2 separate regions of the Homo sapiens genome follow, and region 1 is linked to region 2. Evidence: fine-mapped expression QTL. A gene starts in region 2. The other region holds a variant in brackets. All regions are shown on one strand. Distances are between the middles of the regions.

Region 1 (5,370 bases), 110 kb after region 2:
AGACCACACGTGAATTTACCTTTCACTCATGTTTTCGGGAGTGGAGCACCAATAGGAGAGCTACTTTGCTTGGGATACTAAAGGGCATTCACTGAATCAGCCTTCCAGTTCCTGGGGTGTTCCTCTAATTCGGGAAACTCTTCATTTACTTTTCTGGTAGCATCTTAGAGGAAGCTCTGTGCTGGATCCTTACTGCTTCATAGAGAGTTGGAAGCCAGCTGAGCATAGGAACACCAAGTATGGAGCAGAGGCTTGGTAGCAACCAGAACTAAAAAGTTGGCTCCAGGAAAACTTTGGCATTCCTTACAAGTGCGTCCTGATGTTCTGGAATACTGCTCCAACACTCAGGAACCACCACCCAACAGCAAAACATCCTTGGACCCAACCCTTCTCACCCATGCCCAACTTTTAACCCTGAGGCCCAGCCAACCTCCCACTGGGGCCTTCTCTTCCCTGCCCCACTTTTGTACAATTGATCACAGCTGTGAGTGCTGGCGTTTCTTTCCTCCACACCACTGTAATGCAAGCCAGCTGCGAGTGAGGACTCTCTTTCTATGTCTTCCTTCAAAAACACTGCCTCTTCTCTAGCCCCTCCACCTCCACACTCTGCAGCAAGCCCTCTTGACCAGTCATCCCTAGCATCCCCAGAACCACTGACTATTGGCATGTTCCTAAGGGACCACCAGTCCCAGGAGTGCCCACCTCCCATCCCCCTCCTTGAGGGCTCCTCGGGCCTTCACAAGTCAGGGAATAAAATTTTATTACCACTTGCATCAGGGATTGAGAGAAACAAGCTCCATCCAAAATAATCCTTTCCTGCTCTATCATTTATTTTGAGGAAAGGGCTGCCACTCATGGAATTATTCACAAAATTTGACCTTTCCTTTTAGTGTTTAGGGGCAGAATTGTTTTTAGAACATTGATGTGGGCTGGGCGTGGTGGCTCATGCCTGTAATCCCAGCACTTTGGGAGGCCAAGGTGGGCAGATCATGAGGTCAAGAGTTAGAGATAAGCCAGGCCAACATGGTGAAACCCCGTCTCTACTAAGAATACAAAAATTAGCTGGGCGTGGTGGCACGTGCCTGTAATCCCAGCAACTCGGGAGGCTGAGGCAGGAGAATCACTTGAACCCTGGAGGCAGAGGTTGCAGTGAGCCAAGATCGCACCATTGCACTCCAGCCTGGGTGCCAGAGCAAGACTCCATCTCAAAAAAAAAAAAAAAAAAAAATTAACCAGGCATTGGTGGCACGTGCCTGTGATCCCAGCTACTTGGGAGACTGAGGCAGGAGAATCGCTTGAACCCAGGAGGTGGAGGTTGCAATGAGCCAAGATCGTGCCACTGCACTCCAGTCTGGGCGACAGAGTGAGACTCCATCTAAAAAAAGAAAAAACGTTGACGAGGGCTACAGAGCAAGAGGAATAAGACCCTTCACCTGCCTGCTTGTTGCCGTATTGTCTCCAGCACCCTGTGCTCCATGGGCTCCAGCTAACGAGGTATTCATGATAACCAGGTACAGAAACGTTTGTTGCAGCCACAACAGTGGGATCAGACTACTCAAAACAAACTTACCACAGGAGATAGTCAACAAACGGGCAGCTCCTCCCACGCGGCCAGCTGGTTCCCCAGCCGAGTCGTCATCATTTCTCGCATCAAGCCTGAACACTGCTGTCCTGGAGCCCCATGCATCCAGTTCACTGAGTGAACTTTGGCTTCCTTTCTGTCACGTTTCTCCACCAGCCTCTGCATCTAGCACCGGCATTGCTGGTCATCTTTCCTGACCTTGCTCCCACGACCTTCTCCTCCAGATGGTTCACACTCACTGCAGCTGAACCAGGGCCTCCGGGTGTCCCAGGCCCTGGGGGCCTCTCTGTCACTGAAGGCAACATAGGGCTTTAGGAGTCACAAAGGGCTGTACAGCAAGGAGCCCCAAGGGGCTGTACAGCAAGGAGAAGGGAGCAGCCCCTTGTACTTCCTCCTTCTAGGAATGAGACCACAAGGAAGTAAAAATGGAGGTAGCCAGCCAGGTGCAGTGGCTCACGCCTGTAATCCCAGCACTTTGGGAGGCTGAATCGGGTGGATCATGAGGTCAAGAAATCGAGACCATCCTGGCCAACATGGTGAAATCCCGTCTCTACCAAAAATACAAAAAATTAGCCAGGCATGGTGGTGCACACCTGTAGTCCCAGCTGCTTGGGAGGCTGAGGCAGAAGAATTGCTTGAACCTGGGAGGCAGAGGTTGCAATGGGCAGAGATCGTGCCACCGCACTCCAGCCTGGCAACAGAGTGAGACACTGTCTCAAAAAAAAAAAAAAAAAAAGCAGGTAGCCTTTTCTTTGAGTTGGGAAAAAAAGTTAAACATGTTTTTGTTTTGTTTTTCTATTGCAATGATTGGGAAAAAAAACACACATAGGCTATCCTCCTTTTTATATACATTTAATTTTTTGTTTTAGAGATGAGGATCTAACTATGTTGCCCAGGCTGGACTTGAACTCCAGAGATCAAGAGATCCTCCCACCTCAGCCTCTGGGATTCAGTAGCTGGGACTACAGGCACATGCCACTGTGCCTGGATCGTAGGGTGCCTCCTCATGCCTGCATTCCTCTGAGCAGCAATCCTGCCTTCTCCAGTCTGCAGGACCCTTCTCTCCCTACTCTGCCCCATCCTACATTCAGAGTTACTTTAGCCTCATTTAGCCTCACTCTTCCTACCTTAAAAATCCAAAAGAAACTGAACTCAATCCCCAAGAACTCTTCCAGGTCTAAATTCTGTCATTCTGTAACTGTGAAGTCAAAAGTGCTTGAACCACAAGTCTGACGCGTAGAAGGAATCTTAAACACAAATACTGCATTTTTTCTTCTCCTTTAA[C/T]GGACTAAAGTCAGAGTTTCAAAGACTAGGGAAATGGACCATGGATCTTCTCATGAACCACTTCGTTTCCAAGTCACATTTAGGCACTTTGGCAAACGTGCTATAAAAAGAGACTGGTTTCATGCAAAATACCTTCATGCAGGGATTTCCTTCTTAAGGTCTCTTTTATTTTTTTGAGACGGAGTCTCACTCTGTTGCCCAGACTGGAGTGCAGCAGCGTGATCTTGACTCACAACAACTTCTGCCTCTCGGATTCAAGCGATTCTCCTGCCTCAGCCTCCCTCCCGAGTAGCTGGGACTACAGGCACCCGCCACCACATCTGGCTAATTTTTTTGTATTTTCAGTAGAGACAGGGTTTCACCATGTTGGCCAGGCTGATCTCGAACTCCTGACCTCAGGTGATCTACCTGCCTCAGCTTCCCAAAGTGCTGGGATTGCAGGAGTGAGCCACCGTGCCCAGCACCCACTCCCAGTCTTCTAGTCCAAATCACTGGCTTCAAGCCCTTTTCATTGCAGCCCACAATGAGAAGCACATCTTACAATCAGACCCAGGGTATGCCTTCCCACCCGCCCCCACCACACACACAGATAGTTGTTTTGTTGTTGTTGTTGTTGTTGTTTTCCTTTGAGACAGAGTTTCGCGTTTGTTGCCCAGCCTGGGGTGCAATGGCGTATTCTCGGCTCACTGCAACCTCCGTCTCCTGGGTTCAAGCGATTCTCCTGCCTCAGCCTCCTGAGTAGCTGGGATTACAGGCACACGCCACCATGCCCGACTCGTTTTTTGTTTTTGTATTTTTTGTATTTTTAGTAGAGACGGGGTTTCTCCATGTTGGTCAGTATAGCCTTGAACTCCTGACCTCAGGTGATCCACCCGCCTCAGCCTCCCAAAGTGCTAGGATTACAGGCACGAGCCACCGCACCCGGCTCACACACAGATAGTTATTTACAGCTGGGAAACGTGCAGCACACTCTCTTATTTTCTATTCTGTTCTTTTTGTTCTTGTTTTTAATGCTGATCGCAACCCTCTAAAATGATTTCAAGACCCACTAATGGGCTGCAAACTATAGTCTGAAAAATCTTGCTCTAGAAACAACTATCCTCACTTGTATGTGAATGTTCTGATTTTCTAAGTCCTGACTTTACAACCATAGCACACGAGCATAGCAACTTTGTAGCCTGGCTCCACGCATCAACATAGATTAGTCCTAAAATAAAAAAATAAACAATTTAGAACAAAGTGAATTCAGTACATTCAGTGGTTTATAGATCAAGGAACTAAAACATAAATGGTGAGGAATTAACTAAAGCATTAACATTCTTGAATATTTGAGAGGAAGTGATGCCTTAGGGAAAGGTATCTCTGCTTTGACAGAAGATGTAGATCTAGATCCTTCGAAAGTCATAGAAGTCGGCCGGATGTGGTGGCTCACGCCTGTAATCCCAGCACTTTGGGAGGCCAAGGTGAACAGATCACCTGAGGTCAGGAGTTCGAGACCAGCCTGACCAACGTGGTGAAACCCTGTGTCTACCAAAAATACAAAAATTAGCCAGGCATGGTGGCGCATGCCTGTTAATCTCAGCTACACTGGAGGCTGAGGCAGGAGAATCACTTGAACACGGGAGGTGGAGGTTGCAGTGAGCTGAGATCATGCCACTGTACTCCAGCCTGGGAGACAGAGTGAAATTCTGTCTCAAAAAAAAAAAGAAAGACACAGAAGTCACTTCACCCTAAGCTCTGGCTGGATTCTGGATAGTATTCTCCTTAATATAAGTCCTAACTTCATTATTCTCTCACTCTTTTTTTTTTCTTGGTATCTTCCAAATGCAATGTGTTACTCTTACCCAGCTAATAAAGAAGACAGTGTAGGGATAAGAATGAAATCTTGGGGTAGCGTTTTTCTCATCTTGGGGGTGATCATTTGAAAGAAAAGATAAGGACCGAATATCAGTGCGATGCATGGATGCCATGCTGCTATTTCCTGACTCCAGTGAGTATCAGGAGAACGATTATTTGCAAAGACAGAGAACAGGAAGGTTAAGAGACAGTGGGATAAATGAACAAGATTCAATAGTACCATTATTAGTCCAGGGGCCCCCAAATTGGGGAATGGAAAAGAAGGCTATGTGTACATATATTTTTTAATTTTAATTATTTTTAATTGTCATATAAAGATGGCATATATTTATCATGTACAACAATGATGATTTTGTTGTTGTTGAGACAGGGTCTCCCTCTGTCATCCATGCTGGAGTGCAGTGACACGATCACGGCTCACTGCAGCCTCAACCTTCCAGGTTCAAGTAATCTTCACACTTCAGCTTCCTGAGTAGCTGGGACCACAGGCACATGTCACCACCAAAGGCTATTTTTTTTTTTTTTTTGAGAAACAGGGCCCCACCATGTTGCCCAGGTTGGTCTCAATCTCTTGGGCTCAACTGGAACATAATATTTTAATACACACATATATCTTGTTGTTGTTGTTGTTTTGTTTTGTTTTATTA
Region 2 (5,370 bases):
AACTCAGGAGGCTGAGGCTTCAGTGACCCAAGACCATGCCACTGTACTCCAGCCTAGGTGACAGAGTGAGAATCTGTCTCAAAAAAAAAAAAAAAAAAAAATTAGGCCAGGTGCGGTGGCTCACACCTGTAATCCGAGCACTTTGGGAGGCCAAGGCGGGTGGATCATGAGGTCAGGAGTTTTTAAGACTAGCCTGGCCAAGATGGTGAAACCCTGTCACTACTAAAAATACAAAAAAATTAGCCGAGCGTGGCGCGGTGGCAGGCGCCTGTAATCCCAGCTACTCAGGAGGCTTAGGCAAAAGAATCGCTTGAACCCAGGAGGCAAAGGTTGCAAGCCAAGATTGCACCAGTTTGCTTTCTTATATGTTGTAGCAGCCCTGGGAATAATTAACCCTCAAGAAGCCAAGTCTTGGCCAGGCGTGGTGGCTCACATCTATAATCCCAACACTTTGGGAGGCCAAGTCAGGAGGATCACTTGAGGCCAGGAGTTCAAGATTAGCCTGGGCAACATAGCAAGACCTACAAAAAATAAAAAAGCCGACCATGATAGCATACATCTGTAGTCCTAGCTAATTGGGAGGCTGAGGTGGGGAAATTGCTTGAGCCCAGGAGTTCGAGGCTGAAGTGAGCTATGATAGCAACACTGCACTCCACCGCGGGTGAGAGACTGAGACTGCCTCAATCAATCAATCAATAAAAAAGAAGCCAAGCCTGGGAGGCTGAGGCAGGTGAATGGCGTGAACCCAGGAGGCGGAGCTTGCAGTGAGCCGAAATCGCTCCACTGCACTCCAGCCTGGGCGACAGAGCGAGACTCCGTCTCAAAAAAAAAAAAAAAAAAAAGCCAAGCCTCTGATCTTTATTTAGAAAGTGAAAAACTTACTGAATAATGCTTCAACAAACAAAACAATAATTTAAATGCTTACACTTTAAAAAAAAAGCTTGCACTTTGCAAATGTGGGCTCTAAAAGTTGACTATGCTTAGTTAAAATGGGTATGTCATGAGGAGTTTAAGGAACTTAAGCCCTAGAAAAGCTTCAAAGAGTTCCCAGAAAGCATAAAACCCTCAGCTGAGAAGAAAACAGAGATTTTTTTCCTGTGACTTTGAACAAGTCCCTCAAATCTCAAGCTCCCAGTCTATAGGCACTGCCTGGGCAGTATTACGTCATTACACCCATCTTTTATTTTTCACTGTCTCCCTCCTGCCTTTCTCTCGCGCGCACACTCCTTCTGTGGATTTGTGAGGCTAAGCCTCTCTTCTCTCTTCCCCCTTGCTTGAACTTTAGGCCTCTTTGCTGTCCCGCAGGACCATGGCTCCCAGCCCTTCTGAGCTAAAGATGAGGATGACCTTCCTCTGGTGTGGAGATGGACCTGAAGCCTGCTCCCACCGCGCGCAAATCACCCCGCCAGACCCCCCTCACTCTCATCAGGGCATTCCTCTGCTCAAAAACTTTCCGTCCCCCGCTTGAAATCTGGCTAAGCCTACCCATCAGACCTGATTCACCACTTGGTCCTCACTCGGCTGTTTCTGAAATGCCTAGCCTCTGCTTCCGGCCTCCACTGGTGCTGTTCCCTTCACTCAGAACCCTTTCCTTTCACCCACTTTCCTCCACCTATGCAAATGCTATTCAATGTTCCCGGCCCGGTCAAAGCTCCAGGGAACTTCCTCGAAGGCCCCAGCCTGTATTCCAGACCCGCCTTCCCCGCAGCCCACGGCATTTCCCTGCGGACTTCTGCTGTGCAGCCTGTGTTCCTTGACGGTGTCCTGCGTGAGTGGGGGCAGCGGGTCTATGAAGTCACTTCTCCTCTTGGAAGCTTTTCCTGACCACCTCCCTTCCCGCCCGGTCTGGGAGCCCTTCTGCAGCGCGCTCGGCCCTGGGCCCTCCCCGGCCCCCATCACCTGCATCGCCGGTCTCATGACTGTCATTACCCCGGCCCGACGGCAAGCTGCCTGGGGCAAGGGTGGTGCCTGACTCACTGCCCGAGGTGCCCCCGGCCCCGGCCCGGTGCCGAGAGTGTGTTAACTGCCTAGAGTAAGCGGGGCCGGGCACGCGGCCGCCGTTCCCCAGGCTTGGACGTCCAGGTCTAAGCCTCAGGCCGGAAGCACCTCGCGAATCCGCCCGGGCCTGGGTGGAATGGAGCCCGCGCGCGGCGGGCGTCCTCCCAGGAAGGGTTAAGCCACCTCTCCCCCACCCCGAGAGGCGAGGGGGCGAGTCCGGCAGAAGGTCCTGTTTACCGCAGCTCCGCGCGGGGCCGGGCCCTGGGAGAGGGGTTGCCGTGGCAACCGGCCGGGCGCCCGCCAGCTGCGGATTAGCTCACTGGGCCGGGCGGGATGGGTCGGGAGGAGGGGGCGCGCGTCGCGCAGATCGTCGCGGAGCCACGGCAGGAGGAGGCAGGGGCCGCGGGCGAGCCTGCGCTGGGCCGGCCGAGGGAAGCGCGCCGCTGGGGCCGGGGGCGGCGGGGACCCCACGGGAGCGCGCGCGGCGGGGACCCCCAGGGGCTTGCGGGCGGCCGGGGGAGGCTCGGCGGACAAAGGGGCGGAGGGCGGAGGGCCATGGCGTCCCCGGCACCCGCCGCCGCCCGCCCCCGAGCCGCGCCGCCAGCCGTCCCGGCCCGCCCCGGAGCCCCCAAGATGCGCCCCAGAGCCCGCGGAGCCGCCGCCCGCGGGGAGGTAGGGCCGGGCCGGGCCAGGGGGTGCAGGGTCGAGCTGGGGAGGGAAAGGGGACGGAGGAGGGGACGCGCGGGGGAGGGAGGAAACGGCTCGCGCGGCCTGAGCCCTGACGGGGGAAGCGGCTCTGCAGACGGGAGTCTGAGTTCCCGCCTGGTCCCGGGACTGTGCAGAGCGCGATCCAGGCGTTCCTCCCGGGCTCGGGCTGACTCCCAGGACTGAGCCCGGACGCCGCCGTCTCGCGCCTCGGGGACCTGCAGAAAGCCGGTAGACCCCCGCCCTGCGCCGTGCTGGGTCCCTCGGGGCGCGAGTGTGAGTGTGTGTGTGTCCGCGCGCGCGCGTGTGTGTGTGTGCGCGCTTGTGTGTCTGTGTGTGAGTGTGTCTGTGCGAGTGTGTGTGAGTGTGTGCGTGCGCGTGCAAGCGCGGGGCATCGAGGCGGCTGAGCAGCCGGGCCCCCCTCACAGCGGTCAGCATTTGCAGTCTTGGGAAAGCAAGAAGGTAAAGATGATTGAATGGTCTTACTTCTTCCACTTTGTCCCCAAGGGTGGAGTTGGGAGCAGATGGAGCCCAGGGGAAGTCTGGACACAATCGTATTAGGAGGGTCACAGAGAGCTGGGTGAGACCACGGAGTAGAGCCAGACCTCAGCCGTGGAATCTTGTCATGGGGGGCCTGGGACAGGAAGCAGGAAACTGGTCAGGGCTCTCCAGGGGCGTAAATTGGGCAAGGGAAGTGCAGTGACCCTGCCTTAACCAGCTGGTGCTGACTTCCAGCTGCTGTTCAGATGCGATTCAGGAATGTGACTTCCCCAAGGTTCCAAATGACATCGGACAGTAATGGGCTGGGGGTAACAGAGTTGTAATAGGCGTGCTACAGTAATCTTGTTAGTAAACTCTTAAACCCTCTGTGGTTACCACATAAAAGAAGAGAAAGAAATCCCTTCTCCTTACATCATCAAATATCAGATACCAAAAGAGTGGAGTAGAAAGTCTGGGTGGGCAGCGTGGGACGGAGCAGAACTCCGAGAGGAAGTATGTGTGAGTGTGCGAGTGTGTGTGTGTGTGTGTGTCAGAGACGGTTTCTGAGGCCTGGTAATGAAAAGGCTGGCGGGAGGCTGGCCTCCAGTCCTTTCGTTTGTTTTTTATTTTTATTTTTTTGAGACAGAGTCTTGCTCTGTCACCCTGGCTGGAGTGCGGTAGTGCAATCTCGACCCACTGCAACCTCAGCCCCCGGAGTTCAAGCAATTCTCCTGTCTCAGCTTCCCGAGTAGCTGGGATTACAGGCGCCCACCACCACACCCAGCTAATTTTTGTATTTTTAGTAGAGACGGGGTTTCACCATGTTGGCCAGGCTGGTCTTGAACTGCTGACCCCAGGTGATCTGCCCGCCTCGGCCTCGCAAAGTGCTGGGATTACAGGCTTGAGCCACTGTGCCTGGCCTCCAGTCCTTTCATTCTGGAAGATTAATAAAATCCTGTGTCATGTATTCTATTCATACCCTTACACAGCTCTGTGTGCTAGGCATGCGTGCTAGACATCAGTGGCACAGCGAGGAATGAGACGTCCCCCTTCCTTCCAGGAACACCATCCTAGCTGGGTAGTCAAACAAAAAAGTAAAACCAGTCCTGCCCAGCCTGGCTGTGAGGGCTGCATGGCATAGAACTAGGGCAGCCCAGAGAGGAGCCGGTGCAGGGAATCCCCACAGATTAGGTGATGCTTGGGCTAAGCCCTGAAAACCGCCTCACCAAGGAAACAGCAGGGAAGGTTGTTTCAGGCTGAAAGAACAGAATGTGCAAAGTCACCAAGAGAGTCTAGGAGAGGCCAGTGAGGGGAATTCAGTGTGGCTGCGGGTTGCAGTATGTGAGTGCATGCCGGGGAGAGGTGAGGCGGGAGCTGTCAGGGCAGAGGCACAGGGAAGGAAGGATCTGCCAGAAGGAGGCAGGAGTATGCACTGAAGCAGGAGTGATGCGCTCCTTCTAGTTGTTGGGTGGGGAGGCCTGGAGGAGGAGGAGGAGACCAAGGCTTTTTGCAACACCCAGGCCAGAATTACTGAGGAGCAGGAGAAACTGAAAGGATGCCAGGATCAAGAGGCAGGACCTGGTGACTGGTTTGGGCACAGATTATGATAACTTAGACTAAAAGCAAGTATGTACACAAATGCTCAGGAGAAAACAAAGCAAAGCAAAAGGAATGTGGACCTTCTGAGTGGCCTGCATTTAGCAGATTACAACACTTGGATAACGCATTTGGCTGTAAGTTTTCTGGCAGCTTAGGGACAAACAAAAATACACTGGGTTGCATAGTTTGGGATTTTGGACAACAGAAAGCCTACAAATTAATTCTCAGAACAAAATTTTTCCTGGAATTGAACTCAGCTGGGAATTTATCATGTGGAACTTTATGTAAAGACTGAAGAGTGACATAGAAAAAAAAAATCTTCGTTGCTGGTGTTACAAAAGATGGAAAGATAAAACTCCCCGTTACTGCCTTCCTCTACCATCCTGTTATGTCTAGGGGAGTGAACTGCACTTCTGTGAGGACTGGGTGTCATCTCAGAGTATGGGGCCAGGGAAATCCTATACAAAGGAGACAATGGTACCTTAAGTGCAGGAAGAGCTGACACCCATCTCTGTGAATGTAGAGAGCAAGGCGTCCGGGGTGCTCAACCATAAAGGGAAGGAGGCTTATCATAGTATAGCCCAGAGA

The links. PIP is the estimated chance that this variant, and not a neighbour inherited with it, causes the effect.
Region 1: its variant is fine-mapped to the expression of DENND2A in esophagus muscle (GTEx, PIP above 0.99).

The regions. Positions count from the first base shown.
Region 1 is chr7:140,529,940-140,535,309 of GRCh38, reverse strand. All of the region lies in intron 14 of DENND2A (DENN domain containing 2A), which reads left to right. Among named protein-coding and RNA genes, the nearest start is that of MKRN1, 53 kb to the right of the region's middle. The variant C/T (reference allele first, on the strand shown) is at 2,867.
Region 2 is chr7:140,637,804-140,643,173 of GRCh38, reverse strand. DENND2A (DENN domain containing 2A) reads left to right here and starts at 2,361. Exons shown (of 20, transcript NM_015689.5): 1 at 2,361-2,670. It overlaps LOC105375535 (a long non-coding RNA gene), which reads right to left and starts at 2,265. Exons shown (of 6, transcript XR_928047.3): 1 at 1,900-2,265. RefSeq lists a silencer at 2,171-2,465.